Linked DNA regions of Homo sapiens: regions 2, 3, 4 and 5 are each linked to region 1. Evidence: fine-mapped expression QTL. A gene starts in region 1. Each other region holds a variant in brackets. All regions are shown on one strand. Distances are from middle to middle.

Region 1 (5,000 bases):
GATATTAAAATCCTTGAGGGAAAGCACCCAACCTAAAGAGGGAGGATACCACAGATATTTAAGAGAGTCAGCTCTGGATCTGCGGATTGGAAGCCCCACTCTGCAACTTATTGGCTGTGTGACCTTGGGAAGTCACTTAACTTCCCTGTACTTAATTTCCTCATCTTTAAAATGGGGAATAATAGCACCCACCCAGGGTGGTGGCTCACGCCTATAATGCCATCTCTTTGGGAGGCTAGTGGGGAGGACTGCTTGAGGCCAAGAATTCAAGACTAGCCTGGCCAACACAGTGAGACCCCCATTGCTAAAAAAAAAAAATTAATTAGCAGGGCATGGTGGTGCAAGCCTGAAGTCCCAGCTACTTGGGAGTCTGAGGTGGGAGAATCACTTGAGCCCAGGAGTTCCAGGCTGCAGTAAGCCGTGATTGTGCCACTGTACTCCAGCTTGGACAACAGAGCGAGACTTGAAAAAATAAAATAACAGCACCTACCTCTCAGGGTTGTTGCCAGGACTGAGAATATCCTTATCAGCTGTTATATTCACTTTGGTATTACTCTCCCCCAGTGCTTTGCACAACACAGAGGAAGTCAGTATTTTTGACTGAATGAATAGGGCTAGGTGACCTTAAGCCTAAGTACCTATTGAGCACATTTTCCAAGGATTTTCGGAAAATTTCCTTTGAAAAGGAAATGTTTGTGTAGCCTTGTGGAAAACTGATTCTATCACCAAGGTAAGCAGCCTAAGCGCACCTGCTGGAAAGAAGGCAATCCTAAACTGTCTGTTAATAAAAAGTCAAGGTTTACAAATAAAAGGGGTGCAATGAAGAAAAGGGGCACACTTTAAATAAGAAGAGTAGGTAGGCACCTAAGCCCCACGCGCTTCTCCGAATAAGTCTGTCCTACAAGACTCCTGACAAACAGACCACCTAAGGACTGGCCGGCGCCACAGGGTGAATAAAGGACACCGGCAACCATAAACAAGTCACGCTTTTAAAAGCGAGACATACCAGCAAGGACACAATACCCTACTGAGCCAGCTTCGGCTGGCAGGCGCCGTGACCTCACCCAAAGCCACTGGTGTCACGGCTACTGCCACCGGTGCCGTCCCTTGCTCGGCAACTAACTGCCACCCGCTGGCATCTGCACGAGACCGCTATTTATAACCTCCCTAGGAAGCCGATTGGCCACGGCTGCAAATAGTCATTCCGGCTGTTGAGTTTGAACTAGCTCTGCCCAGGTCGCCCTCTCCGCTGTCTCTTCCTCCTCACCAGCCTAGGCCCCAGAAACTTGTACCCACCACCGCCAGACCGCCCCAACTCACACTCACAATTTGTGCTCGCAATCTCCTATGTCCCCAGCCGGACACCCTCTCCGAACTCCCTCAAGGGTCAAGCATACCTCAAGGGCATCCAGCTGCCACCTCTCTGGATGAACCGCCCATCGAAAGTCCTCTATGACCTCCCTCTCCACCACCCCCGATCTTGAGGGCCGAAATGACCCCGTACGACTCTCGCTGTCCCCCAAAGCTGCAAATATCTGCACCTGCACAGCTGCCGCCTCATTCCCTGCCCTCTTCGGGGACCCAGTTCCCAAATCCACCAGCCCACTCCCTTCGACATCGCCCCAGCAGGAGACGAGAAAGGGACACCAAGAGGCACGGTGCTTCTTCCCCACCTAAGCCTGCGGCCTGCGGACACCCCAATGCACCCTGCGCCCGGGACACCGCCGACCCCGCCCCGCTTTGCTCTTTGACAGGTCTCTCTCCCGGCGAGGGCCGTGGTCTTCAGGAAAGGCCCGAGCCCCTTTCCCAGCTGCGCCCTAGGCGCGCGCCCCGGCTGCCCGCACCCGCCAGTGCCGTCGCGCTCACCTGGGCCGGGAGGCTGACAGCCTTGGGCTGTGCCCTGAGGGCCGCGAGAGGACGTCGCGCTGGCAGACCCGGGCTTGGGCCCCGCGGCGCTGCGCCTCCAACCCGGAAGAACAGCCCCAACTCCGCGGCGGCGGGCGGCCACGTGACTGCAGCTCCGCTCCCACCTCGGCCCGCGCCCCTTCCCCGCCCCAGCTTTCTTCCCGCCAGGCCCCCTCCACCCGATCGCCGCGCGCTCTCCGAACCAAAAGGCGACCTCACGAAATGCCCCTTTGAGCTCAAAGGCTAGTTACCCCCAGGGGCCCTTCCACTCTCGGGGACAGGCGAAACCTCTTTGTCTCTGCCTCGGCCTGCGGCCCCCAGCCCAGCCTCCGCGCTTTCCCTCCGCCAGTCCTTGTCAATCAAACCTGGTGCCAAACGCGGCAGCTGAAGTTTTCAGGGACACATTTGCTTCTCCCCTTGAAGAACCAGTTACAAAGCGTGATGTCCTCTCTGGGGTCCCATCAGAACAAAGAAACAGGTAATATAACTCCACTCCGGGTACCTGCCTTTCCTCCAGCTCGCTAGGAAAAATCAGAACTTCTGTAACAGAGAGGACCCAAGGGAAAGGGGCAGGCGGAGAGGGGTTGGTGAAGGGCGGGAATGGGGGGCGTTGATTTTCCATTCTGGCAGGAGAGGTGGAGTTAAATTCCTCAGAAACGATGTCCAGGCTTGAAAAGTAACACACATCTGCGTGCTTGTCTTCCAACATCAGAGCCAGCCTAGAGGAAGCTGGCTAGTGTCACTGCTAGTACGAATATCCCCGAGGCTGGAAAGCATCTGGGTGGAGGTTGTGAGCTTTCCAGACCAGGCCTCGGCTGTTTTTCTAAAACTATTAACCGTAATGACCTAGTCGTTCTTTTCACACAGTTCTGTTACTTATTCTGCAGGTGTATTCTGACTAAAAGTGGGAGGAATAAAAAATAGAGTGTAAAATGGTTCACTTGCCCAAAACTTAATCATCATGAAGTGTCAGTAACGTCATTTATTTCTATTAATTGAAATTTTGATACAAGAAAAATAATTATGAATCTAAAAGGTATAAGCAGAACAGGTATTCCATAACTTTAAAAAGAAATGAGCCGCAGGGAAACCCTTAGTTTGAGAACTTGTCTTGTGATTAACCTACACAGAAGGTCATTCAACTAATGGATTCCCACTGCAGTCCAAACTCACAGACAGGAAATGACACAGCCCCATGTTTTAAAATAATAATGAGCCGTGGTAAGTGTGACCATAGGGACGGTTTCCAGATACTGAAGGTACAATGAAGTGAGATTAGTAATGATCCCACTTAGTAAGGATTTTAAACTAAGTTATTGATTTAAAACTTTTTGTAGGGGTCAGGAGTTGCTGCTTTGTCTTTTAGGGATTAATAATTCGTGGTTCCCAACTGGGGACAATTTAGTTCCGAGGGATATTTGGCAATGTCTAGAGACATTTTGGTTGTCACAATTGGAGAGGGGACCTATCTAATGGGTTGGGGCCAGGGATATTACTGAACACCTCACACTACACAGCCCCTCACGACGAAGCATTATCCAGCCCCAAATGTCAATAGTGCTGAGGCTGAAAAATCCTGGCTTAAATTAATGCTCAGTACATTATTTAATTTTGACTTGCTTATAAATTTATATCACATGAAAACAAACTCAAAGATAACATACTGTTTTTCACTTTTGAAAATCATGAATGTTAGGCATATGATAATTTTAATAACAAGCATATGATTATTTTATTCCGCTTACTTGTACAACATAATTTGGGTGCCATTTCTTCAGGAGAAAACATTTGTCATTTGGAATGCTCTGTTTCAGTCCTTAAGCTTCTACGTATAATTACAGCATATTATTCATAAACGGAGTCCCCAATGAAAATAGGATTAAGTTCCAAAAGTTTGCTTTTAAGTTAGTTGCTTCTAAGTCTTAGACACTGTCTTGAATAAAATTTTTGTAGAGATTTGATATTCCCTATTAAGTTTTAAGGGCCTTTCCCACTCTGACTTCTACTCTTTCCTCCCTGACTAATTTGACCTGCAAACTCTCATCTTAAAATAGTACCTCTCACATATGTGTAAGTTTTCATTACAGATTGTTCTATTATTGAATAATTTTTAAAATATTTTAAAATTAAAATAAACATCAAAATTTAAACCATTTGAAGTTTAGGAGTTTTTGTAGTCACAAATGCTTAAAAATAGTTTTTAATAATTAGAGTTCTAATCTATCAGAAGCAAAAAGGATGAAACATTTACAAGACTATAATATAACATTTGGATCTGCTTTAAAGCCTAAAAACCAGAGAGGTGCCCAGTAGCCAAAAATCAAAACATAGGCTGAACCTGAGAAGACATGTAATCAAAAACTGACCTCTAGTGATGGCTTGTTACCAAAACCCACCATCTAGGTAAAATCAGGCTACAGAAAAGGTAGCTTTAATGTCTTTTCATTGTGGTTATTATGTTACATGGTTATTGGCAATTTATTGTCTCAGCTTCCCTTTTATAAATAATTATTAGTAAAGTGAACAGCCCCAGAGAGATGGGATTCTTAGATTTCAGTGTGTCTAACAATGCAGACACTCGACAGGTTTTAAGGGAACCATCACTAACCTTAATCTTAGCCCTCTTCTCCCAGGCTGACCAATCAAGAGTGTTTGATTTTAGGAAATAAATGTTAACTGACTAAATGAGCTGATGCTAATCAACATTAACTGGAAGAAAAAAGAGAACTGATATTAAAGAGCCAGCACAAAGTTCAACAATTGGCATTTGTTTAAGCTACATAAGTAAAACCAGTTTGCATTTGAAATTTCTGTGAGCATTTAAAAAACTAGCTCATGGCATACTACTGTGAATATTGTCCTTTGCATATTCATGTAAGTACCAATTACAAAAACCTATGGGTTTTTAAATCAATATAAAAAATTGGCCGGGCGCGGTGGCTCATGCCTGTAATCCCAGCACTTTGTGGCCAAGGCAGGCGGATTGCCTGAGGTCAGGAGTTCGAGACCAGCCTGGCCAATAGGGTGAAACCCCATCTCTACTAAAAATACAAAAATTAGCTGGGCATGGTGGCAGGTGCCTGAAACCTGAAACC
Region 2 (6,301 bases), 140 kb after region 1:
TGTTTAATTATTTCAATCTTTTTGTTAAATTTATCTGATAGACTTCTGGATTCCTTTTCTGTGTTATCTTGAATTTCTTTGAATTTCCTCAACACAGCTATTTTAAATTCTCTGTCTGAAAAGTCACATATCTTCTTTTCCAAGATTGGTCTTTAGTGCCTTATTTAGTTCATTTGGTGAGGTCATGTTTTCCTGGATGGTGTTGATGCTAGTAGATGTTCTTCAGTGTCTGGGCATTGATGACTTAGGTATTTATTGTAGGCTTCATTGTCGGGGCTTATTTGTACCCGTCCTTCTTGGGAAGGTTTTCCAGATATTTGAAAGGACTTTGGTGTTATAATCTAAACTATATCTGCTTTAGAGGGCACTCCAAGCCCAGTAATGCTGTGGTTCTTGCAGACTCATAGAGGTACCGCCTTGATGGTCATGGACAAGATATGGGAGAATTCTCTGGATTACCAGGCTAGGACTCTTGTTCTCTTCCTTTACTTTCCCTCAAACAGTCTGTTTCTGTGTTCTGAGCCACCTAAAGCTAGGGTGAAGTAACCCAAGCACCCCTGTGGCCACAACTACCATGACTGTGCTGGGTCAGACCTGAACCCAGCATGGCACTTGGTCTCACACAATGCCTGCTATATTCACTTCCTGGCTACTGCCTATGTTTGCTGTAGGCCCTGGGACTCTACAATCAGCCAGTAGCAAAGCCAGCCAGGCCTATGTCCTTCCTTTCAGGGCAGTGAGGTCCCCCAGGCCCTGGGTGGGTCTAGAGGTACCATCTGGGAGTCAGGGACTAGAGTCAAAAACCTTAGACGTCTACCTGATGTTCTATTGCACTGCAGCTGAGCTGGCACTCAAACCACAAGATGCAGTCCTTCCCACTTTTCCCTCCCCTTTTCAAAGACAGAGGAGCCTGACTCCATAGCCACCACCACCCCAGGTCACAAAGAGTACTGCCAGAACACTGCTAATGCCCCTTAAGGCACAAGGTCTCTTAAGTCAGTTTGTGGTGGATGCTGCCTGGCCTGAGACCCACCCTTTAGGGCAGTGGGCTCCTCTGTGGCCCAGGGCAGGTCCAGAAATGCCATCCAAGAGTCATATCCTGGAATCAGGGACCCCAAGAGCTCACTTGGTGCTCTATCCTCCTATGCCTGTGCTGATACCTAAGGTGAAAGGCAAAGTCCCCTTTAGTTTTCTCTCTGCTTTTGTCAAACAGAGGGAGTTTTTTCCCATAGCCACCACAGCTGATAATGTGCTGAGTCTCACCTGAAGCCAGCAAGTCTCAGAGGCTCACGCAAGGCCCTTGATGTAGTACCTGTGTATCACTGCTGGTTGTTCAGGTCCCAAGGGCTCTTCAGTTAGCAGGTGATGAATGCTGCCAGTTTTTGAGTCCTGTCCTTCAAGGCAGGGGTTTCCCTTCTGGCTCTGAGTATGTCTAGAAATGACATCTGGGAACTAGGGCCTGGAATGGGGCCCTCATGACTCTGACCAGTGTCCTGTCTTGCTGTGGTTGAGCTGTTATTCTCCTCAAGCAAAAAGAAGGGGTCTCTTTTGGAGCCTCAAGATGTGCAGCATGGGGTTAGGTGAGGGTGATGCCAGCATACCTTTGGCTGCCCCAACTTTGGTCTCAGTATGTCATGTGCCCACGCAGTCCACTGTCTCTGGGCCTAGTTCAGCTCTAGGACTCACCTAAGGGTTGCAGTCCTTAAGGCCTACACTGCCTTTCAAGTTTACCTGGAGACAGAGGGCACTGTAGCCCTCAGTGGCGAGGTTTGCAGAAACTCAAATTCGGACCAATGGAATGGGCATTTCCCCTCTGGCTTGGGCTAATTTAAATGCTCCCTCCGTGGCTGGACATCAACTGAGTTTAGTCTGGTTTTCCTTTCTGCTCTAACAGGACAGCACTGAGTTCAGTGCCTCAAAACTGCTGTGTTCTCCCTCCCTCAGTGCCCAGAGATGCTCTCTGCCCCACTCTGCCACTTCTGGGGTGTAGGGGAGGGGTGGCCTTAGTGATTCAGGACTGTTTTTTGCTTTTCTGTGTTTTGTTTTTTTTTTAATCCCTTCTGTGCCTCTTTCAGTGGTGTGAAGTTAAAACCAGGTACTATGAGTCTCACCTGATTTTTGGTTCTTATGAAGGTATTTTTTTTCTGTGTAGATAGTTGTTAACTTGTGTTTGGGGATGATTGGTGGAGGCTTCTATTCTGCTATTTTGCTCTGCCTCCCTAATTCAAATATGTGGTTAACTTTTATGGGGGTTCCGTGAACATTTGAAAAGAATGTGTACTGTTTATAGCAGGAGTCCCCACCCCCAGGCCATGGACCAGTACAGGTTCATGGCCCATTAGGATCCAGGCCGCAAAGCAGGAGGTGAACGGCAGGCTAGCAAGTGAAGCTTCATCTGTGTTTACAGCCACTCTCCATCACTGACATTACTGCCTGAGCTCCACCTCCTTTCAGATCAGTGGCAGCGTTAGCTTCTCATTGGAGAGTGAACCTATTGTGAACTGCACATGCGAGTTCTAGGTCACGTGCTTCTTATGAGAATCTAATGCCTGATGATCTGTCACTGTCTCCCACCATCCTAAGATGGAACTCTCTAGATGCAGGAAAACAAGCTAAGGGCTCCCACTGATTCTACATTATGTTGAGTTGTGTAATTATTTAATTATATATTACAATGTAATAATAATAGAAATAAAGTACACAATAAATGTAATGCACTTGAATCATCGCAAAACCATCCCCCTCCACAGTCCATGGAAAAATTGTCTTCCACAAAACCAGTCCCTGGTGCCAAAAAGGACTGGGACCACTGCTTCATAGCATATGAAGTTGTATACCTGAGTATGAAATAAAATTTATAAATTATATTATTCAGATTATGCCTTTTATTGACCACTTAATTTTTTGCTGCTGTTGTTTGACATGTAAGCATCCTCTTACCCCATAGAACTTTACTGTGATGTGAATATTTTATCCTTTTCAGTTCTAATTAATCATTTTTACCTTGAATTCTGTGTTTGCAGTTAATATTACCATTGCTACTTAATTTTGTTTGTATTTCTTAGACATATATTTTCTCATCTCTTTATTTTCTATATTGTGAAGACTTTTTGTTTGAGGTGTTTTGTTTTGAACAATAATTTAGTGATGTTTTCTTTTGCCCCAATCTGATTATGTTTGTCTCTTTATAGAGAAATTTAACACATTCACATTTGTTGTGGTATTTGTATTTTATTTGGTCCCTATTGCTTTTTGCAGAGTGGGGGTGAGCTGGAGGGAAGTAAGGTTTTCTTTTTTTTCTTTTCTGTCTTGCTGTATTGATCAAATTTTCTTTATTTGTCTCCCTTCCTGCTAGAGATTGAGAAGTTCTACTGCTCAGTTTCCCCTACCCCC[C/A]AAAATCATACATGGGTGTATAATTTCTAAGGCAAAACTTTTAAAATTCACAGTTGCCACATAGGTGCCATAATTTAACTATGCTTAGAATGCTACAGTCTATGATCTTTTTCTCTCAGAGTTCTGTAAATGTTACCTCACAGTATTCTGACATTTAGGGTTGATGATAATCACATTCTCTTTCTTTGGAAGATAATTTTTTTTTTTTGACATAGAAACTCTAAAGGTTTTCTCTTTATTTTTGGAAATTTTTTTTCAATGCCCAACTCTTTGTCTTATATTTTCCCCTTAAGCTTTGGAAAAATTATTTGCAAATGTTCTCATTTACTAATTTTGATGTTTGAAAGATTCACGCCACTGTGCATTCCTTCAGTGCATAGTAGACTTTGCATTGAGTTTTTATTTGGGTAATCAACTTTTTCATTTCCATAGTTTCTTGTTTTCATATTTCTCCTTTTTTACAAAAGCCTGCTGTTTTATAATCAATGAAGTGTACCTTCCTAACTTTTTAACATCTTTGTTGGAGTATAATTGACATGTAATTAACTGTATATGTTTAAAATATACAGTTTGATACGTTTTGACATATGTATGAAACTGTGAACCATGGAACTATCACCACAGTCAAGATAATGAACATATGCGTCCCTTACCAAAGTTTCTTTATTCTCCTTTTTAATCATTCCTGCCTCTACTGTCTTCAGGAAACCATGGATCTGCTTTCTGTCACTATAAATTAGTTTGTATTTTGTAGACTTTTAAATAAGTAGAATTATACTATGCACTCTTTTTAAAAACATATTTCTAGGCCAGGTTCAGTGGCTCACGCCTGTAATCCCAGCACTTTGGGAGGCTGAGGTGGGAAGATTGCTTGAGGCCAGGAGCTGCAGACCAGCCTGGGCAACATGGTGAAATTCCATCTCTACAAAAAAATTTAAAAATTAGCCAGGCATGGTGGCCTGTGACTGTGATTCCAGCTACTCAGGAGGCTGAGGCAGGGGGATCTCATGAGCCCAGGACATAGAGGCTGCAGTGAGCCATATTCACACCACTGCACTCCAGCCTGGACAACAGAGCAAGACCCTGTCTCAAAAATTAAGGAAAGAAAGAATTTTTTAAATTAAATAAATAGAAATGGAAACATATAGCCAGGCATGATGGCTCATGCCTGTAGTCCCAGCTACTCAGGAGGTGAGGTGGGAGGATCACCTGAGACTAGGAAGTCAAGGTTGCAGTGAGCCAAGATCAAGCCACTGCACTCCAGTGTGGGCAACACAGTGAGACCCTGTCCTCAAAATAAATAAATTTAATAAAAACATTTCTAAATGAAAATTTCAAACATACAGAAAAATAGAGAAAAATATAATGAACTACAGTACATCTATTACTTAAATTTATAATATTTGTTGGCGGTTCATTTATTTAATTTTTTAAAATAAATTGACTTTATTTTTAAGTTTTTGTAAGTTTTTCTAATTAATAGACTTTATAAACTGATATGGTTTGGATTTGTGTCCTCACCCAAATCTCATGTCAAATTGTAATCCCCAGTGTTGGAGGAGGAGCCTGGTGGGAGGTGACTGGTTCATGGGGGCAGATATCCCCCTAGGTGTTCTCATGATAGTGAGTTCGTTCTCACGAGATCTGGCTGTTTAAAGTGTGTAGCACCTTCCACTTTAGTCTTCTACTCTGGCCATGTAAAACGTGACTCCTTCCTCTTTACCTTCCACCATGATTGTAAGTTTCCTGAGGTTTCCTCAGCCATGCTTCCTGTACAGCCTGCAGAACTGTAAGCCAATTAAGCTTCTTTTCATTGTAAATTACCCAGTTTCAGGTAGTTCCATGCAATAACAGACTAATACATAAACCTAAATAGTAGTTTTAGGTTTACAGAAAAATTGAGCCAATATTATAGAGAATTCTTATAGATGCCCTTTGCCCTGCATACATTTTCCCCATTATTAATATTTGCAATAGTGTGGTATATTTGATACAAGTAGGGAACCAATATTGATATGTTATTTTTGACTAAAGTCCATACTTTATATTAGGGTTCATCCTTTATGTCGCACAGTTCTATGGGTTTTAACTGTGTAATTTTTGTTTGTTTGACTTCTTTCACTTACTATAATCATTTCAAGATTCATTCATGTTTTTATGTGTATCACATGTTTGTTCCTTTTTATTCCACCTTTTGTTTATTCACATGTTTGTGGACATTTGAGTTGTTTCCAACTTGGAACAAATTCAGATAAAGCTGCTATGAACATTCATGTGTAAGCCTTTGTGTACACATAAGCTTTTGGGAAAATACCTAGAAGTGGAATGACTGGGTTATATGGTAAGAGTACGTTTAACTTTCTGAGAAATTGGAAAACTGTTTTTCCAAAATAGTCATACTGTTTTTTATTCCGACCAGCAGCGTATGAGTTCTGGTTGCTCCACATCTTTGTCAACATCTGGGATTGTCAGTCTTTAATTTTAGCCATTTAACAGGTGTGTGATATCTAATTTTTAAAATTTGCATTTCCCTAATAATTAATGGTGATGAACATATTTCTTATACTTATTGGCTATCTGAATATCATCAATGGTAGGTACCCATTTTCACATCTTTTGTCCATTTTTGTATTGGTTTGTTTTCCTATTACTCTGTTTTGAGAGTTCTTTATATATTCTGGATGTAAGTCCTTTATCAGATATAAGATTTAAAAATTGTTTTTTCTTTCTCTTAACATTGTCTTTCAAAGATCAGAAGCTTTTAATTTTGATAAGTTCAACTTACCAATTTTTTAATGGATCAAGCTTTTGGTATTTTATCTAATAACTCTTTGCGTGACCCAAGGACACAAAAATACTTTATGTTTTTTTCCAGAAATTTTATCTTTTTATGTTTTATTTACATTTA
Region 3 (6,301 bases), 410 kb after region 1:
AACCCCGTCTCTACTAAAAATACAAAAAAGTAGCCGGGCATGGAGGCGGGCACCTGTAGTCCTAGCTACTCGGGAGGCTGAGGCAGGAGAATGGCGTGAACCTGGGAGGCGGAGTTTGCAGTGAGCCGAGATCGCGTCACTGCACTCCAGCCTGGGAGGCAGAGTGAGACTCCATCTCAAAAAATAAAATAAAATAAAATAACTACTACTTAATGAGAGCCTACAATAAATAGCAAGTGCTCAATAAGAAGGGTGAACATAGAATCTGTCATTCAAACCAAGACACCTCTGAGAATGGGGTGCTATTAATAATTGCACTAGGACGGCCGGGTGCAGTGGCTCAGGCCTGTAATCCCAGCACTTTGGGAGGCCGAGGTGGGCAGATTACCTGAGGTCAGGAGTTCGAGACCAGCCTGGCCAAGAAACCCCGTCTCTGCTAAGAATACAAAATTAGCTGAGCATGCGTGATGGCACATGCCTGTAATCCCAGCTACTCAGGAGGCCGAAGCAGGAGAATCACTTGAACCCGGGAGGCAGAGGTTGCAGTGAGCCGAGATCACACCATTGCACTCCAGCCTGGGCAAGAACAAAACTCTGTCTCAAAAAATAATAATAACAATCACACTAGGACAACAGGTGTAAACCGGGGTTGCACTGACGAACTGGGACATATGGCCACCCTATCAATAAGTGATAGTGTGGCAGACATCACTGCAGCCTGGCTCACTCAACGTCACTACTAACTCTCTTCTCCTTTCTTTGCCTTCTGTTATAGTAGCTGGCGATCCCAGTTTCCCTTTCTCCCTCAAAGATAGGGATAGCTCTGAGACACAGTTTTGGCCAGTAAGACCTTAGTGTGGTGTTTCTGATAATTAGTGCTTTCCTGTTGAAAGAGGATAGTTGCAGCTGGAGCAGCTCCTTTCATTTCCTTCCCCTGTGGAACTTACAGAGGAGTAGTAGCCACCTAGAGACCATGAAGTGATAAATATGAGGGCAAAAGGATGGATAGCAGAACAGAAAGATAGGAATAAACTAGGTCTCTGATGGCAGCTAAAACAAAGCTCTTAATTGCTTATCTAGACCTCTTCTTCTGCAAGAAAAATAAACTTCTAGCTAAGCAGGAAGATTCTTTAGTTAACTGCAGGCCAAAGCGTACCTAACTTAGAAGACTAGTCATTATTTCATTTCAACTACTTTATACATATATATATATATTTTAGTAGAGATGGCATTTCATTTATAGATATATACATTTTTCATATATATATATATATATATATATATATATATATTTTTTTTTTTTTTTTGGAGACAGAGCTTCACTCTTGTTGCCCAGGCTGGAGTACAATGGCACAATCTCAGCTCACTGCAACCTCTGCCTCCCGGGTTCAAGCTATTCTCCTGCCTTAGCTTCCCAAGTAGCTGGAATTACAGGCACGTGCCACCATGCCCAGCTAATTTTGTATTTTTAGTAGAGATGGGGTTTTTCCATATTGGTCAGGCTGGTCTCGAACTCCTGACCTCAGGTGATCCACCCACCTTGGCCTCCTAAAGTGCTGGGATTACAGGTGTGAGCCACCGTGCTTGGCCCTTTATACATATTTTTAAAAATCTTTACAACAGCCCTAAAAGGTGCCTGCTATTATCCTCATTTTTCAGATGAAGAAACTAAACTTCAGAAGGACTTGGTAACTTGTCCAAAGCCATACAGGCAATTAACATCCAAGTTTAATTTCAAGCCCAAGACTGTCTGACCTCAGGGTCTGTGCTTCACACAAAACAGATGAGGCTTCTTCACCTTGTCTCATGAGCAGGAGCTGTGTGTGCCACAGGCAATCCCCTCTAAACAGATGCTGCTAGAAAGTAGGAGGATAAGAAATAGATCGTGTTCTGAAATGGTTAAAAGACAATATGAAGTGGGCTGGAAAGGTTTGGCTTTTCAGTAATCATTACTTAATAAAGTCCGCTCTTTTTTTTTTAAGTTCAAGTAATCATTGTTGAAAATAAAAGGCAATAAAAATAAAGACAGTTTTCACTATAGAAAGAAGGAAAGAAAGAAGGAAGGAAGGAAAGTAGGAAAGAAAGAAAGAGAGCGAGCTCGAGAGGGAGGGAGGGAGGAAGGGGGAGAGAGAGAGAGCAAGACAGAAAGAAAGAAAGACAGAAAGACAGAAAGGAAGGAAGGGAGGAAGGAAGTAAGGAAGGAAGGAAGAAAGGAGAGAAAGAGAGAAAGAAAGAAAGGAAAGAAAGAAAAGAAAGAAAGAAAGAAAGAAAGAAAGAAAGAAAGAAAGAGAAAGAAAGAAAGAAAGAAAGAAAGAAAGAAAGAAAGAAAGAAAGAAAGAAAGAAAGAAAGAAAGAAAGAAAGAAATCATATTGGCCAGGTGCGGGTGCAGAGCAAGACTCCTCCATCGGAAAAAAGAAAAGAAAAGAAATAGATTATGTTTTCCCCCTACTTCCTTGCCCTCACCCCTACTCTAAGCAATGTGAGGTTGCTACCCCTCTTACTCTACTATGGAATACTCCTTCAATATCAAGATGACGTGTTCAGTTCAACAAACATTATTTTTAAGCTCCGTCCTCCATGTTTAAGTGTACAAGTTACCCCCAGGAACAATGTAGATATAACTAAATCTACAGCTAGTGGGGCAAGGTAGATGCATAAACAGATCGTCTAAATATAATGGCCAAAGGCTAAACTAGAGATAGGTACAGACAGGGTGGGGCCCAAAAGAGAACATCTGGAAGGAGATAAGGCCTGAAGGAATTTCCAGGTGTGATTCAGCAAGTACTGAAAGATAGAGAAATGTAGGTCAGGGAAATGGTAAAATGGGAGAGGGGGTATGGAGTATGGATCATGGAAATTGAGGCAGTATAAAGGGTGGAAAAATCAGTACCTCTGTGTTCTGTAGGAGCTCAAGGGCTGGCGCTGTTGATTACATCTGAGGGAGTATTTGGCTACATTTCAAATTTCCAAAAAGTTTAAAAGGCTCTTTAAAAATCTTCATGATTAAAAATGACTAAGGTGTATTTTATTAGCCAAGAATAGAACTAATTTGGCCAGGCGTGGTGGCTCACGCCTGTAATCCCAGCACTTTGGGAGGCCAAGGCAGAAGGATGGCTTGAGGCCAGGAGTTCAAGACCAGCCTGGGCAACATAGAGAGGCCCGCCCCCCCTACCACCGACAACTCTACAAAAATAAAAAACTTAGCTGGACATGATGGTGCATGCCTGTAGTCCCAGCTACTCTGGAGTCTGAAATGAGAGGATCACTTGTGCCCAGAAGTTCTAGGCTGCAGTGAGCTATGATTGTACCACTGCACTGTAGTCTAGGTGAGTGAGATCCTGCCTCTAAATAAAACATAAAAATAAATAAGTCAATAGATTCTGTCCAAAATTGATAAATCAAGAACCAGTGGCCAGGCATGGTGGCTCATGCTTGTAATCCCAGCACTTTGGGAGGCCAAAGTGAGAGGATTGCTTGAGCCCAGGAGTTTGAGACCAGGCTGGGCAACATAGTGAAACCTTGTCTTTACCAAAAAAAAAAAAAAAAAAAAAAA[G/AAG]CTGGGCATGGGCATGGTAGCGTGCACCTATAGCCCCAGCTACTCAAGAGGTTGAGGGGGAAGGATTGCTTGAACTCAGGAATTTAAGGCTGCAGTGAGCCATGATCACACCACTGTACTCTACCCTGGGCAACAGTGTGAGAACCTGTCTCAAGAAAAAAAGAAAAAACAGCAACATAAGCTAATTATTTGGACATAGGGAGGTAAGTGATCAAACAGCCAAGAGTTCAAAATGATTGCCTCTGGAGACTGGGACTGTTGTTTTAGTTATAAGCTTTTATTTTTTATTTATTTATTTATTTATTTTTGAGACAGAGTCTCGCTCTGTCGCCCAGGCTGGAGTGCAGTGGCGCGATCTCGGCTCACTACAAGCTCCATCTCTCAGGCTCAAGCCATTCTCCTGCCTCAGCCTCCCGAGTAGCTGGGACTACAGGCGCCCACCACCACACCTGGCTAATTTTTTTTTTTTTGTATATTTAGTAGAGACAGGGTTTCACTGTGTTAGCCAGGATGGTCTCGATCTCCTGACCTCATGATCCACCCACCTCGGCCTCCCAAAGTGCTGGGATTACAGGCGTAAGCCACCGCGCCCAGCCAGTTATAAGCTTTTAATATACTCTCATAAAATTAGGTGAATGCATTGTGATGATAACAATTTGAACAATTTTTTAAAGTAAAAAGAAAAATTTCAGTGCAATTATGTAATCAAGTGTATCCATATATTATCCCAACTAGATAATTCCAACAAATAGAGACACAGAAAGCTTCTTGATGGCTTTAGGATTAGGGAGAAAAGATCTAATGAGCAGCTAGTTCAGGAGACCCGAAAAGACAGCTGCCTCAGCCCACACCACTTGGATGGGTGGCAGGGAGTCAGAATGAACTAAGATCTGCCGCTAAGGCCTCCCAAGTCACACGATTTTGCTAAATAGGGTACTGACTGCTTTCTGGAAAACCATCAGTGTTCTCTGTGGAAGATGAAGAGTGGAGTTCTTCTTAGTTTCCTATTCTGCAACTTCGTTTTCCTTCTGTGCAACCCTCTTTTCACTTGATGTTTTCGCTTTTACTTTCTTTCTATTAATCTGCTTTCTCCTTACAGTTTTTTCCCCTTAACAGTTTTATTTTGCTCTCTAATCTTAAATTCTTCCCGCTATCCATGCCCTGAATTTCTCTTAAGTCTTGGCTAATGCTCATATTCATAATGCTCATGTCAGACAATTTAGATTTTTGTCTCGATTTTCCAAGTGGTTAGCTGAAATCACTTTTTTTTTTTTTTTTTTTGGATTCAGAGTCTTTCTGTGTCTCCCAGGATGGAATGCAGTGGCATAATCACAGCTCACTGCAGCCTTGAACCTCCCAGGCTCAAGCAATCCTCCTCCCTCAGTCTCCCCAGTAGCTGGGACTACAGGCATGCACCACCACACCCAGCTAATTTTTAAAAAATTTTTATAGAGACAAGGTCTCACCATGTTGCCCAGGCTGGTCTCGAACTCCTGGGCTCAAGCAGTCCTTCTGCTTCAGCCTCCCAAAGTATTGGGATTACAGGCCTGAGCCACGGCACCGACCTATCACTTGGCTTTTGAACACAACTTGTCCATCTGTAAAACTGATTAATATTCCTCAGGATGCTGTATAATAATGGCTAAGCTAACCTTGAAGTTCTTGAGAGAAAGTAATTTAAGAACTATGATGTGGTTAATTCAAGTTGTAGACTATTATCTTCATAAGCAATTTGAATATTTTCTTCTTCTCCTGAAAATTAAAACTTCAATTCTAGAGACCTTTTTCTAGAATGACAATAGGAAATGACAAAATACAAAATGAAACAAATTTTATGAACAGTTTGTCCTTTCAACAAGTGAAAGAAAATCAACCAATGAATTAAAACTCTTTAATCCCTAGAGAAATACAGTGATCAGATTCAAAGAATGAAGTTGGATTTAATGTTATATTTTAATTTTTAAGTTTCTCAAAATGAAACTATATATGTGACAAAAACATTAACCTACTAAGACAAAAATCTTTGCTTTTGTTTTTTTAAAAATGTATGATAAGTCTGTCATGCACCTGTAGTCCCAGCTCCTCAGGAGGCTGAGGCAGGAAGATCCCTTGAGCCCAGGAGTTTGAGACATGCCTGGGCAACATGGCGAGACCCAGTCTCTAAAAACGAAAAGAAAATAAAACAAAACTGTAAGTCTGAGGGCTTCAAGCTGTCTAATCACATGCTATCAATGTTAGAATTTGAAGCTCAGAAATCGTGGATGTGTAATGAATTACGGTTCTTTAAAGAAACCAACATTTGCTGATAAAAGTATTTGAAATGGTACCACTGCTTGCCCCAAATTAAACCTTTTCAACTAAAAACCTAGGGTTAAACCAAGAATATAAAGGGCTCTATAACCTATCTGTAGTTATTACTGGGGAATTCAGATTTCATATAAACCTGTCTTTATTTTAAATGTAGTTAGAAAAAAAGCACACACCTCAAACCAAATATCCAATCCACATTTTTTCCTAACACAGAAGGAGGCTTCTCTGAAGGTTTTTCCAGGCTTACCATTTAACAGTGGTCCAGCTAAAAATAAACCCATGAGGGTTTACTAGGCAAATTCAATGGCACACCAAACACCAGTCCATGGGGAGTTGGATTCAGCTTTTTCCCCACTAGCCTCTCGCAGGAATCCCCCCCTACATTCTCCCATCTCCTAATTAGAAAGCTAATTAGGCTTCCAAATGTAAATGCTAAA
Region 4 (6,301 bases), 220 kb before region 1:
GCAGATTATGAGGTCAAGAGATCAAGACCATCGTGGCCAACATGGTGAAACCCCATCTCTACTAAAAATACAAAATTAGCTGGGCGTGGTGGCGCTCGCCTGTAGTCCCAGCTACTTGGGAGGCTGAGGCAGGAGAATTGCTTGAACCCAAGAGGTGGAGGTTGCAGGGAGCCAAGATCACACCACTGCATTCCAGCCTAGTGACAGAGCAAGACTCTGTCAAGAAAGAAAGAGAGAAAGAAAGGAAGGAAAGGAAGGGAAGGGAAGGGAAAAGAAAGAAAGAAGGAAAGAAAGAAAGAAAGAAAAAGAAAGAAAGAAAGAAAGAAAGAAAGAAAGAAAGAAAGAAAGAAAGAAAGAAAGAAAGAAAGAAAGAAAGAAAAGAAAGAAAAGTAAAGAGAGAAAGAAAGAAAGAAAGAAAGAAAGAAAGAAAGAAAGAGAGAAAGAAAGAAAGAAAGAAAAGTAAAGAAAGGAAGAAAGAAAAGCTCAGAACTGGATGGAATCTCAGCTAAATTCTACCACACTTATAAAGAAGAATTAATACCAATCCTCATTAAACTATTCCAAAAAATTGAAGAAGAGGGAACTTTCCATAACTTACTGTATAAGAATAGTGTTACTCTAATATGAAAACCAGAAAAGGACACAGCAAAAAATATAACTATAGGTCAATATCCCTGATGAACATACACATAAAAACCCTCAAGAAAATACTAGCAAACCAATCTAACAGCACATTACCAAAATAGTATACTATTACGAAGTAGGATTTACAGCAGGGATGCAAGTATGGTTCAACATACAAATCAATAAACATAATTTATCTCATCAATAGAATAAAGGACAAAAGCCGTATGATCACCTCGATATATACAGAAAAGGCCTCTGATAAAATTCAACATCCCATCACAATAAAAATTCTCAACACACTAGGAATAGAAAAAGCATACCCAAAATGATAAAGGTCATATATGGCAAACCCACAGCTAACATCATATTGAATGGGGAAGAACTGAAAGCTTTCCTCTGAGATCTGGAACAAGACAAGGATGTCTGCTTTCACCATTCCTACTCAACATATCACTACAAGTTCTAGCCAGAGCAATCAGGCAAGAGAAAGAAATAAAGGGCATCTAAATTAGAAAAGAGGAATTCAAATTGTCCTGTTTTGCTGACGATATGATCTTATCTAGAAAAATCTTAAGACTCCAACAAAAAAACTGCTAGATTTGATAAATAAGTTCATTAAAGTTGTAGGATACAAAATCAATAAAGAATAATCAGTAGTGCTTCTATACACCAATAATGAACTTATTGAGAAAGAAACTAAGAAAGCAATCCTATTTACAATAACTACAAAAAATAAAATACTTAGGAATAAATTTAACCAAGGAGATGAAAGATCTCTACAAGGAAATCTATGAAACACTAAGTAAAGAAACTTAGGAAGATACAAACAAATTGGAAGACATCCCATGTTCAGGAATTAGAAGAATATCATTAAAATGACCATAGTGCTGAAAGTAATCTACATGTTCAATGCCACCTCTATCAAAAATATAAATGTCATTTTTCACAGAATCAGAAAAAAAAAATTCATTCATATGGAACCAAAAAAGGGCCAGAATAGTCCCTCTCCCTCTCCCTCTCCCTCTCCCTCCCCCTCCCCCTCCCCCTACCCTTTGCACGGTCTCCCTCTGATGCCCAGCCGAGGCTGGACTGTACTGCTGCCATCTCGACTCACTGCAACCTCCCTGCCTGATTCTCTTGCCTCAGCCTGCCAAGTGCCTGGGATTGCAGGGGCACACCGCCACACCTGACTGGTTTTCTTTTTTTTGGTGGAGACAGGGTTTTGCTGTGCTGGCCAGGCTGGTCTCCAGCTCCTGACTGCAAGTGATCTGACAGCCTTGGCCTCCCGAGGTGCTGGGATTGCAGACGGAGTCTCGCTCACTCAGTGCTCAATGTTGCCCAGGCTGGAGTGCAGTGGTGTGATCTCGGCTCGCTACAACCTCCACCTCCCAGCCGCCTGCCTTGGCCTCCCAAAGTGCCGAGATTGCAGCCTCTGCCCGGCCGCCACCCCATCTAGGAAGTGAGGAGCGTCTCTGCCTGGCCGCTCATCGTCTGGGATGTGAGGAACCCCTCCGCCCGGCTGCCCAGTCTGGGAAGTGAGGAGTGCCTCTTCCCGGCCGTCATCCCATCTAGGAAGTGAGGAGCGTCTCTGCCCGGCCGCCCATCGTCTGGGATGTGGGGAGCACCTCTGGCCTGCCGCCCCATCTGAGATGTGAAGAGTGCCTCTGCCCGGCCGTGACCCTGTCTGGGAACTGAGGAGTGTCTCTGCCCTGCCACCACCCCGTCTGGGAGGTGAGGAGCGTCTCTGACCAGCCACCCCATCTGGGAAGTGAGGAGCCCCTCTGCCCAGCAGCCGCCCCATCTGGGAAATGAGGAGCATCTCTGCCCAGCAGCTGCCCCATCTGGGAGGTGGGGGGCAGCCCCCGCCCGGCCAGCCGCCCTGTCCGGGAAGTGGGGGGCAGCCCCCGCCCAGCCAGCCACCCCCTCTGGGAGGTGAGGGGTTGCCTCTGCCCGGCTGCCCCATCTGGGAAGTGAGGAGCCCCTCTGCCCGGCCGCCACCCCATCTGGGAGGTGTACCCAATAGCTCATTGAGAACATGATGACAATGGTGGTTTTGTCGAATAGAAAGGGGGGAAATGTGGGGAAAAGAAAGAGAGATTAGATTGTTACTGTGTCTGTGTAGAAAGAAGTAGACATAGGAGACTCCATTTTGTTCTGTACTAAGAAAAATTCTTCTGCCTTGGGATGCTGTTAATCTATAACCTTACCCCCAACCCCATGCTCTCTGAAACATGTGCTGTGTCCACTAAGGGTTAAATGGATTAAGGGCAGTGCAAGATGTGCTTTGTTAAACAGACGCTTGAAGGCAGCATACTCGTTAAGAGTCATCACCACTCCCTAATCTCAAGTACCCAGGGACACAAACACTGTGGAAGGCGGCAGGGCCCTCTGCCTAGGAAAACCAGAGACCTTTGTTCACATGTTTATCTGCTGAGCTTCCCTCCACTGTTGTCCTATGACCCTGCCAAATCCCCCTCTCCGAGAAACACCCAAGAACGATCAATAAATACTAAAAAAAAAAAAAAAAAAAAAAGAAAGAAAGAAAGAAAAAGAGCCAGAATAGCCAAAACCATTCTGAGCAAAAAGACCACAGCTGAAGGCATCATCTATCTCACTTCAAAAT[G/A]TATTAGAAAGCTATAATAACAGGATTGTTAAGGATATAAAAACAGACACATAGACCAGTGAAACGGAATAATGACACCAGAATTAAATTCACTTATTTATAGCCAACTGATTTTCAATAAAGGTGCCAAGAACATACACTGGGGAAAGGAAATTCTTCAATAAATAGTTTTGGGAAAATTTGAAATTCACGATATGCATAAGAATAGACTGAACACCTATGTCTCCCCATACACAAAAATCATCTGAAGATGGATTAAAGACTTAAATGTAAGACCTGAAACAATAAAACTGCTAGAAAAAAAAATAAAGAGAAAAAACAAAACATCAGTCTAGGCAAAGATTTCATGGCTAAGACCTCAAAAGCACAGACAACCACAACAAATAGGCAAATAGGATTATATTAAACTAAAAAGCTTCTGCACAGCAAAAGAAACTATCAACAGAGTGAAGATACAACTTACAGAATGAGAGAAAAATATTTGCAAACTATTCATCTGAAAAGGGATTAATATCCAGCATATACAAGAAATTCAAACAACTCCTCCATTTAAAAAGAAATCCCATTAAAAAGTGGGCTAATGATATGAATAGACATTTCTCAAAATAATACATACAAATGGCCAACAGGTATATGAAAAAAATGTTCCACATCACTAATCATCAGAGAAATGCAAATCGAAACCACAATGAGATATTATCCTACCCCAGTTAGAATAGCACTATTAAAAATACTAAAAATAACAGATGCTGGTGAGGTTGTGGAGAAGGAACTCTTATACACTGTTGTGGGGAAGTGAATTAGCACAACCACAATGAAAAACAGTATGGAGGTTCCTCAAAAACCTAAAAATGAAACTACCATATGATTCATTCATCCCACTACTGGGTATATATCCAAAGAAAAAGAAATTATTACGTCAAAGAGACATCTGCATTCCCATGTTTATTGCTGCACTGTTCACAGTAGCCAAGATGTGGAATCAATCTAGGTGTCCAACAACAGATGAATGGACTATTTAGGGGCTTGGAATCATAGGCGGACATGCCCCTAACTTTGCAAGATAGGCAATTTAGTACCATGGAAAGAAAATCAGATGTGGACTCAGGAAACTAAAATTCTTGTCTTTTCTGCCAAAAACTAGCTATACAACTTTAAAGTAAGTTACTTAATTAGTTTTCATACGGGTAAAATGTAGCTAATGATATTCTCTCTCAGTAAGATTATTTGTATTATTTAAATTTTATAAATTTTCATTATCATTGATACATAATACCTTATAATTTGTAAAAAAAATTAATGGATAAAGAAAATGTGGTATACATACATAATGGAATACTATTCAGCCATAAAAAGAATGAAATCATGTCTTTTGTAGCAATATGGATGGATCTGGAGGTGATTATGTTAAGTAAGATAACCCAGGCACAGAAAGGCAGATACTGCAAGTTCTCACTCACATGTGAGAGCTTAAAAAGTTGATCTCATAGTGATAGAGAATAGAATGACAGATACCACAGGCTGAGAAAGGTATGTGGGTGAGAGTCAGAGAGATAAAGAGAGGTTGATTAATGGGCAGAAACGTACAGTTAGATAGAAGAAGCAAGTCCCAATATTCAATAGCAGAGTAGGGTGACTATGGTGAGCAACATTGTGTTATATATTTCAAAGTGGCTAGAAGAGAGAACTTGAAATGTCACCAACATGTAGAATACCCCAATATCCTGACTTGATCATTACACATTCTATTCATGTAGCAAATACTCATACATACCCCATAAATATGTAAAATATTTTGTATCAGTAACAAAAATGATAAGCCCCAGCAACAATAACAAAACATTTTGAATATCTTTTTTGTGTTATTTTGAAGATCCCTGAATTTCCTTTAAACTGCTATTTTGAATTTCTGGTCAGAGAACTCACATATCACCATCTCAGTAATGTCAGTCCCTGTTCCCTTGCTTTGTCCATTTGAGGAGGTTGTTGTCCCTGTTTGCTATTGTTTCTTGTAGATGTACATCTTTGTCTTGCATCGACGGACTCGTTGTTTATTCCAGTCTTCTATGTCTGGCTTGTTTTGGTTATGATAGAATATGTTTTCTTAGAGATTCTTTGTAATTTACCTATTGATTTTATTTCTTTTATTTTTCCCACTAGGTTGTTACCTCCTTTCAGCAGTAAATGATGCCTAAAGCCCAGGCTGACCTTGGCTCTGGTAAAGGAGTGGTGCCTGTCTTGAATGGGGGAGGTTCCAAAGGGGAAGGGTGGCTCAAGATTTGTGCCTAGGGGCCCTGTGAAATGAACCTTCTACTGTGTGGTGCTGCTAAACAGCCACTCTGATTTGGAATCTCCTTTGGTGGATTGACAGAGCAGAATTTCCAGGGCTGGAGGTGGTATTTCTGCCTTCCCCTTTTCCTCTGGCTATCCTCAGGGATATTTCTCCCTTCAAGTACTCGGAATGCTTCCTATAAGTTGAGGCAGGGACAGATATCCTGCCAGGGAACTCACGGTGGTGGGGATACTGGTTATCCACCTTGTTCTCACTTTTTCCAATATAGAAACAGTGAGTAGCAGAAAGGATTTTCTGCATGCTTGATGACAGGCAGATTGTGAGAAGGGGTGCCTGATTCTCTTACCATCTTCTCAGAGTATCTTCATGTCTGTGGTCCCAGGAACTGTCTCCTCCTCATATTTGAGTTCTGGGATATTGCTTGTGATAATCTCAGTGCTTTATGTTTGTTTCTGATTTTCCGTAAGGAGGAGTAAAGCCAGCTTGCTTCTACACTGCCATTTTGGAACCAGAAATCTAACAAAAGATTTTAAAAAGGAGAAAAAGAAAAAATGATGTATTTTTCTCCAGATCCATTTAATTCCTTGGATGATGCTTTAAACATAGATGTACAATTATAACAATAGCCAGTGCCAGCATTATCACATCTTCTTGAAATCTGGCTAAATAGATTCATCATTAGCTTTCTCCTCACTTGCCAACGATTAGAAGAACAATCTTATGGCAACTTGAACTGATAAATAAATAAATGGCCAGAT
Region 5 (6,301 bases), 23 kb after region 1:
CCATTTCTCCTATTAAGCTGCCTTTTATCAGTTGATTTTTCAGTGGACCTTCAGAGGGCAAAGGGGAAGTTTTTGCTTGGCTCCTATAGTTTTGGTGCTGTGAGCAGTATACCAAAACTATTCTGCTCTTAAGCCAGAGTGAAGGGAACCCAGGACCTGACTAGCTGCCAGAAGAACAAGAATTTCTTACCGGCCAAGCTTCTGGCCTCTCTTTCTGTGGAATCTGATCAAGTTGACAGTTAAAATCCCTGTTTGTCTCTTTTCTCTGCAAAATCTTGATTAATGGGAGACAAGGATTTGTGTGAGTAGTCTTGGGTGTTGTGACTCTGGTGTAATTTTTGGTTTAAGTATTCATATTATTTGATCCTTTTTGTCCCAGAAATCAACTTTTTCTTTCTTTGTCTTTCCGTGTTGTTATGTCATAAAGAAGGGTACCAAGCATGAGGTAGAACATAGGCCTAAAGCCTTTATAAGCCCATTTTTCCAGCCAGCCTTGCGGACTTGTCAGAATTGTAGTTCTGACCAGAACAGCATATAAACTTTGTTGTGGGCCCCCAAAATAAAAACCATATGAGATTCCCCTTTCATCTTGTTTTATATCCTTGAAAGTGTGGCTGGTGACAAAGTGGGAGCACTCTCTCTTGGTCTCCACTATCTATGAGGCATGATTTTCAGGTCATATAAGGTGACCAGTCTGAAAATGGCTGGGACGTGAGACATGTAAGATTTTAAGCAGCACACTTTTTGTTATGAATGTGTCAAGCTCTCAGGGGAGTTTGTCTTAAAAGTCCCATCACTGTGGGCTTTTGTCATCTCAACTCTTGTTGCTTGGTTCTAAACAATTGCCTTCTTTGTGTTTATAGACAGACCAAATTAAAATAAAGACATATAATAGTATCATGGCTAACCTTAGAAATTCTCTTGACAAAATTAAACAGCAAAAATCTGACCTAACACAAAGTGAAAATCATAACTGAAGGGGTGGGTTGCCCCTCCACACCTGTGGGTGTTTCTCGTTAGGTGGAACGAGAGACTTGGAAAAGAAAAAGACACAGAGACGAAGTATAGAGAAAGAAAATAAGGGGACCCAGGAAACCAGCGTTCAGCATATGGAGGATCCCGCCAGCCTCTGAGTTCTCTTAGTATTTATTCATCATTTTTGGGTGTTTCTCAGAGAGGGGGATGTGGCAGGGTCATAGGATAATAGTGGAGAGAAGGTCAGCAGATAAACACGTGAACAAAGGTCTCTGCATCATAGACAAGGTAACGAATTAAGTGCTGTGCTTTAGATATGCATACACATAAACATCTCAATGCCTTACAAAGCAGTATTGTTGCCCGCATGTCCCACCTCCAGCCCTAAGGCAGTTTTCCCCCATCTCAGTAGATGGAACATACAATCGGGTTTTATACCGAGACATTCCATTGCCCAGGGACGGGCAGGAGACAGATGGCTTCCTCTTGTCTCAACTGCAAAGAGGCATGCCTTCCTCTTATACTAATCCTCCTCAGCACAGACCCTTTACGGGTGTTGGGCTGGGGGATGGTCAGGTCTTTCCCTTCCCAGGAGGCCATATTTCAGACTATCACATGGGGAGAAACCTTGGACAATACCTGGCTTTCCTAGGCAGAGGTCCCTGGGTACTTGAGATTAGGGAGTGGTGAAGACTCTTAATGAGCATGCTGCCTTCAAGCATCTGTTTAACAAAGCACATCTTGCACCGCCCTTAATCCATTTAACCGTAAGTTGACACATCACATGTTTCAGAGAGCACGGGGTTGGGGGTAAGGTTATAGATTAACAGCATCTCAAGGCAAAAGAATTTGTCTTAGTACAGAACAAAATGGAGTCTCCTATGTCTACTTCTTTCTACACAGACACAGTAACAATCTGATCTCTCTTTCTTTTCCCCACAATAACATATGTGCTCAAACTGTCTGTAGGATTCACAATAAAGCTGCTCCACCTTTCAGTCCAGTAATTAAAATTCTGTGCTTTCACTACTGTGGTCTGGGTTTGATTACCAGTCAGGGAACCAGTACCTTTTGGTCTGATATTTGTGTGACTTTTGGCTTTTTGGGGTACCCATTTGTTGTTGATCATTTTCTGTTTCATGGACAGCTTTTGATTTTCTGCCTCCTTCCATCTGTGGGGGCGTATGAGGCTTTTGGGCCTTTGTGTGTAGACAGTCAGCTGAGAAGTTGAGACACTAGAGAATATGGCTGGACAGATGTGGGTTGAATCCCGTTTGCGGCTACTGAAACTTTATTTTCTTTGAACTGTCTTTCAGTGCATCTGCATCTTGTGAGGACTGCTTTTTACCTCTTTGGAGACACCTCATGTGTCCTTAGTTAAATTGTTGAGTCACTTGCAAAGTTACCTTTCATAAAAAAGTTTAAAAGTCAGGAATATTAGCTATTTGTCCTAGCCAAAATCCAATAATAAAAGATCTGAAAATATATTTTTAAAAAGCTCTATGATCAGAAGTCAGCTTAATTAGAAGCTAATATTCAACATATATGTTGAATATATCGTTATATACATAAATATATAATATACATATATTTATATTATATTATATTATAACTATATTAAATATATAGGTATATATTTAATATAGTTATATATTTATATAAATATATACCTATATATTTATAGAAATATATTTAATTTATATTTAATTTATATTATATTATATTATAAATATATTGTTATATATTTATATATTATATTTTATTTATATATTATATAAATGTATAATATTATGTTATATATTATATATAACATATAATATATAAATATTATAAAATATATAATAGATAAAATATTTTTATATTATATATTATAATATATAAATGTATTATTACAATATATAAATATATGTGTATATAAATATGCAAAAATATATTTATATAAATATATGTATATAAATATGCAAAAATATATTTATATAAATATATATATTTAAAGGCCTTTCTGCCTTTTTTCTTTGGGATCCTATTTCTGAGGATTTTTCTAGTTTACTGAAACTTCTTTTAATTGTATATTTGGTCTTTTTGTATGCTTCATTTCTTGTGGTATGATTTTTGTTAAGAAAAGCGTAAAACTTCATTGGCTTTTTGTTCCTCCTTTCTCTTTGCTGTCTTGAATATCACATAAAAGGATCTGTGGGAACATCTAAAGACCCTGTAAGAAACATAGAAAACCCTCTCCCTCCCCCTCCCCCTCCCCCTCCCCCTCTCCCGAGCCGAAGCTGGACTGTACTGCTGCCATCTCGGCTCACTGCAACCTCCCTGCCTGATTCTCCTGCCTCAGCCTGCCCAGTGCCTGCAATTGCAGGCGCGCGACGCCACGCCTCACTGGTTTTCGTATTTTTTTGGTGGAGACGGGGTTTCGCTGTGTTGGCCGGGCTGGTCTCCAGCTCCTAGCCACGAGTGATCCGCCAGCCTCGGCCTCCCGGGGTGCCGGGATTGCAGACGGAGTCTGGTTCACTCAGTGCTCAATGGTGCCCAGGCTGGAGTG[C/T]AGTGGCGTGATCTCGGCTCGCTACAACCTCCACCTCCCAGCCGCCTGCCTTGGCCTCCCAAAGTGCCGAGATTGCAGCCTCTGCCCGGCCGCCACCCCGTCTGGGAAGTGAGGAGCGTCTCTGCCTGGCCGCCCATCGCCTGGGACGTGAGGAGCCCCTCTGCCTGGCTGCCCAGTCTGGAAAGTGAGGAGCATCTCTGCCCGGCCGCCATCCCATCTAGGAAGTGACGAGCGCCTCTTCCCGGTCGCCATCCCATCTAGGAAGTGAGGAGCGTCTCTGCCCGGCCGCCCATTGTCTGAGATGTGGGGAGAGCCTCTGCCCCGCCGCCCCGCCTGGGATGTGAGGAGCGCCTCTACCCGGCCGCGACCCTGTCTGGGAGGTGAGGAGCGTCTCTGCCCGGCCGCCCCGTCTGAGAAGTGAGGAGACCCTCCGCCTGGCAACCGCCCGTCTGAGAAGTGAGGAGCCCCTCCGCCCGGCAGTCACCCCGTCTGGGAAGTGAGGAGCGTCTCCGCCCAGCAGCCACCCCGTCCGGGAGGGAGGTGGGGGTCAGCCCCCGCCAGGCCAGCTGCCCCGTCCGGGAGGGAGGTGGGGGGGTCAGCCCCCCGCCCGGCCAGCCGCCCCGTCCGGGAGGTGAGGGGCGCCTCTGCCCAGCCGCCCCTACTGGGAAGTGAGGAGCCCCTCTGCCCGGCCACCACCCCGTCTGGGAGGTGTACCCAACAGCTCATTGAGAACGGGCCATGATGACAATGGCGGTTTTGTGGAATAGAAAGGGGGGAAAGGTGAGGAAAAGATTGAGAAATCGGATGGTTGCTGTGTCTGCGTAGAAAGAGGTAGACATGGGAGACTTTTCATTTTGTTCTGTACTAAGAAAAATTCTTATCCTGTTGATCTGTGACCTTACCCCCAACCCTGTGCTCTCTGAATCATGTGCTGTGTCCACTCAGGGTTAAATGGATTAAGGGCGGTGCAAGATGTGCTTTGTTAAACAGATGCTTGAAGGCAGCATGCTCGTTAAGAGTCATCACCACTCCCTAATCTCAAGTACCCAGGGACACAAACACTGCGGAAGGCCGCAGGGTCCTCTGCCTAGGAAAACCAGAGACCTTTGTTCACTTGTTTATCTGCTGACCTTCCCTCCACTATTGTCCTATGACCCTGCCAAATCCCCCTCTGCGAGAAACACCCAAGAATAATCAATAAAAATAAATAAATAAATAAATAAATAAAATAATAAATAAATAAAAAGAAACATAGAAAAGCTACCACTCACCCACTTTATGGGAATGATCTTCTGTCTTCCTGTGGAGTCTGAAGAGTCATGGGCAAGTTCTTATCAGGTCTAAAGCTCCACTCTCCTTTGCATTGCATTACCTGGTCTCTTTGGCTTTGGGGGTTCAAGGAATTACTTTGACCTATTAGAGAATTTGACCTTGTGTATGCAATGGCTGGTGGGTCACTGGTGAGGGCTGCAGTTTTGGAGGTAGCTGACAGTGGTTGCAATTAATAGTTATTACTGTATGTAGGCTACTTGTTGCTTTGCTCTATTCTATAAAAAAGACATAGTTGAATACATGGAGACTGTGGGAATACTCACCACCAAGGAATAACTATCCCATGGTGGATGGGCTGATCACAGAATGGGCTGATTGATATGGGTCTCCCACCCACTAATACCTGACACACAATCTGTCACTCTCACTAATGCCTCACACACCCCCACCAGCCTCAGGGTGACATCTTTGTAGTGAGGTGTACTCTGGAAACACTGTGCAGCCCAGTCCTTTGGTGTTTCCCTCTTTTGTGGGGGACCCAGGGTTCAGTGTAAAAGTAGAATCCTTGATTTTTAAAAATCTAGATGCTCTGTCTTCCAGCTGTGCCTACTTTTTACATATACAAATATTAGGCCCTAAAAACTGCAAATGCTTTGTTTGCCCTGTTCCTTAATGGGCTCTGCCCAGAACTCAGTGGTCTAAGTAGAAAACAGATACTAAATTAGAAGCCACCTATATGACTAGATTGGTCTCCAAAATATGACTTTCTGACATTTAGGTGTTTGTTTTTGTTTTTGGTAGGGTTTTCTGTATTTTTTGTTTCGTTTTGTTTTTGTTTTTGTTTTTTGAGACAGTGTATTAGGCCATTCTTGAGTTACTATAAAGAAATTCCTGAGACTGGGTAATTTATAAGAGGTTTAGTTGGTTCACAGTGCTGCAGGCTGTACAAGAGGCATAGTGCCAGCATTTGCTTCTGGAGAGTCCTTAGGAAGCTTACAATCATGGTGAAAGGAAAAGGGGGAGGAGGCACATCTCACAGCAAAAGCAGGAATAAGAGAAAGAGAGTATGGGGGGAGGTGCCACATACTTTAAAATGACCAGATCTTGCAAAAACTCACTTGGCACCAAGGGGACAGCCCTAGCCATTCATGAGGGACCTGCCCCCATGATCCAAATACCTCCCACCAGTTATTACATTTCAACATGAGATTTGGGTGGGGACAAATATCCAAACCATATCAGACTGGGTCTTAATCTGTTGTCCAGGCTGGAATGCAGTCACACAATCACAGCTCACTGCAGCCTCAACTTCCTGGGCTCAAGCAATGTCCTCATCCTCCTACCTCAGCCTCTCAAGTAGCTGCTATTACAGGCACACGCCACCATGCCTGGCTAATTTTGTTGCTTTTGTAGAGACAAAGTTATATACCATGTTGCCCGGGCTTAGCTAGTTATTTTTAAAAGGCTTCTGAATTTCCTCTCTGCTCATTTGTATCTTTCATTGTA

Alleles and levels. Positions count from the first base shown, and alleles are read on the strand shown. Sizes are in standard deviations (SD) of each study's normalised expression. Not every link is listed here.
As copies of AAG replace G in region 3, the expression in NK cells of the gene that starts at base 1,981 in region 1 goes up (small effect, 0.37 SD a copy in Gilchrist 2021).
In carriers of allele C in region 5, the expression in left ventricle of the gene that starts at base 1,981 in region 1 tends to be lower than with T alone (small effect, 0.36 SD a copy in GTEx).

Evidence for each region. PIP is the estimated chance that this variant, and not a neighbour inherited with it, causes the effect.
Region 2: its variant is the best candidate, but not a certain one, in a credible set for the expression of NNT in whole blood (TOPMed, PIP 0.85).
Region 3: its variant is the best candidate, but not a certain one, in a credible set for the expression of NNT in NK cells (Gilchrist 2021, PIP 0.84).
Region 4: its variant is the best candidate, but not a certain one, in a credible set for the expression of NNT in whole blood (TOPMed, PIP 0.61).
Region 5: its variant is the best candidate, but not a certain one, in a credible set for the expression of NNT in left ventricle (GTEx, PIP 0.61).

What each region holds. Positions count from the first base shown.
Region 1 is chr5:43,600,161-43,605,160 of GRCh38, reverse strand. It overlaps NNT (nicotinamide nucleotide transhydrogenase), which reads right to left and starts at 1,981. Exons shown (of 22, transcript NM_182977.3): 1 at 1,867-1,981. It overlaps NNT-AS1 (NNT antisense RNA 1), which reads left to right and starts at 1,931. Exons shown (of 3, transcript NR_073113.1): 1 at 1,931-2,383. RefSeq lists silencers at 1,721-1,940, 2,061-2,150, 2,414-2,633, a cis regulatory region at 3,872 and an enhancer at 3,788-3,957.
Region 2 is chr5:43,456,301-43,462,601 of GRCh38, reverse strand. The region is part of intron 1 of TMEM267 (transmembrane protein 267); the gene reads left to right. Among named protein-coding and RNA genes, the nearest start is that of TMEM267, 24 kb to the left of the region's middle. The variant C/A (reference allele first, on the strand shown) is at 3,394.
Region 3 is chr5:43,194,196-43,200,496 of GRCh38, reverse strand. All of the region lies in intron 1 of NIM1K (NIM1 serine/threonine protein kinase), which reads right to left. Among named protein-coding and RNA genes, the nearest start is that of NIM1K, 5.1 kb to the right of the region's middle. The variant G/AAG (reference allele first, on the strand shown) is at 3,555.
Region 4 is chr5:43,820,735-43,827,035 of GRCh38, reverse strand. No RefSeq gene overlaps it. Among named protein-coding and RNA genes, the nearest start is that of NNT-AS1, 220 kb to the right of the region's middle. The variant G/A (reference allele first, on the strand shown) is at 3,251.
Region 5 is chr5:43,576,063-43,582,363 of GRCh38, reverse strand. All of the region lies in intron 2 of NNT-AS1 (NNT antisense RNA 1), which reads left to right. Among named protein-coding and RNA genes, the nearest start is that of PAIP1, 22 kb to the right of the region's middle. RefSeq lists an enhancer at 1,126-1,872. The variant C/T (reference allele first, on the strand shown) is at 3,524.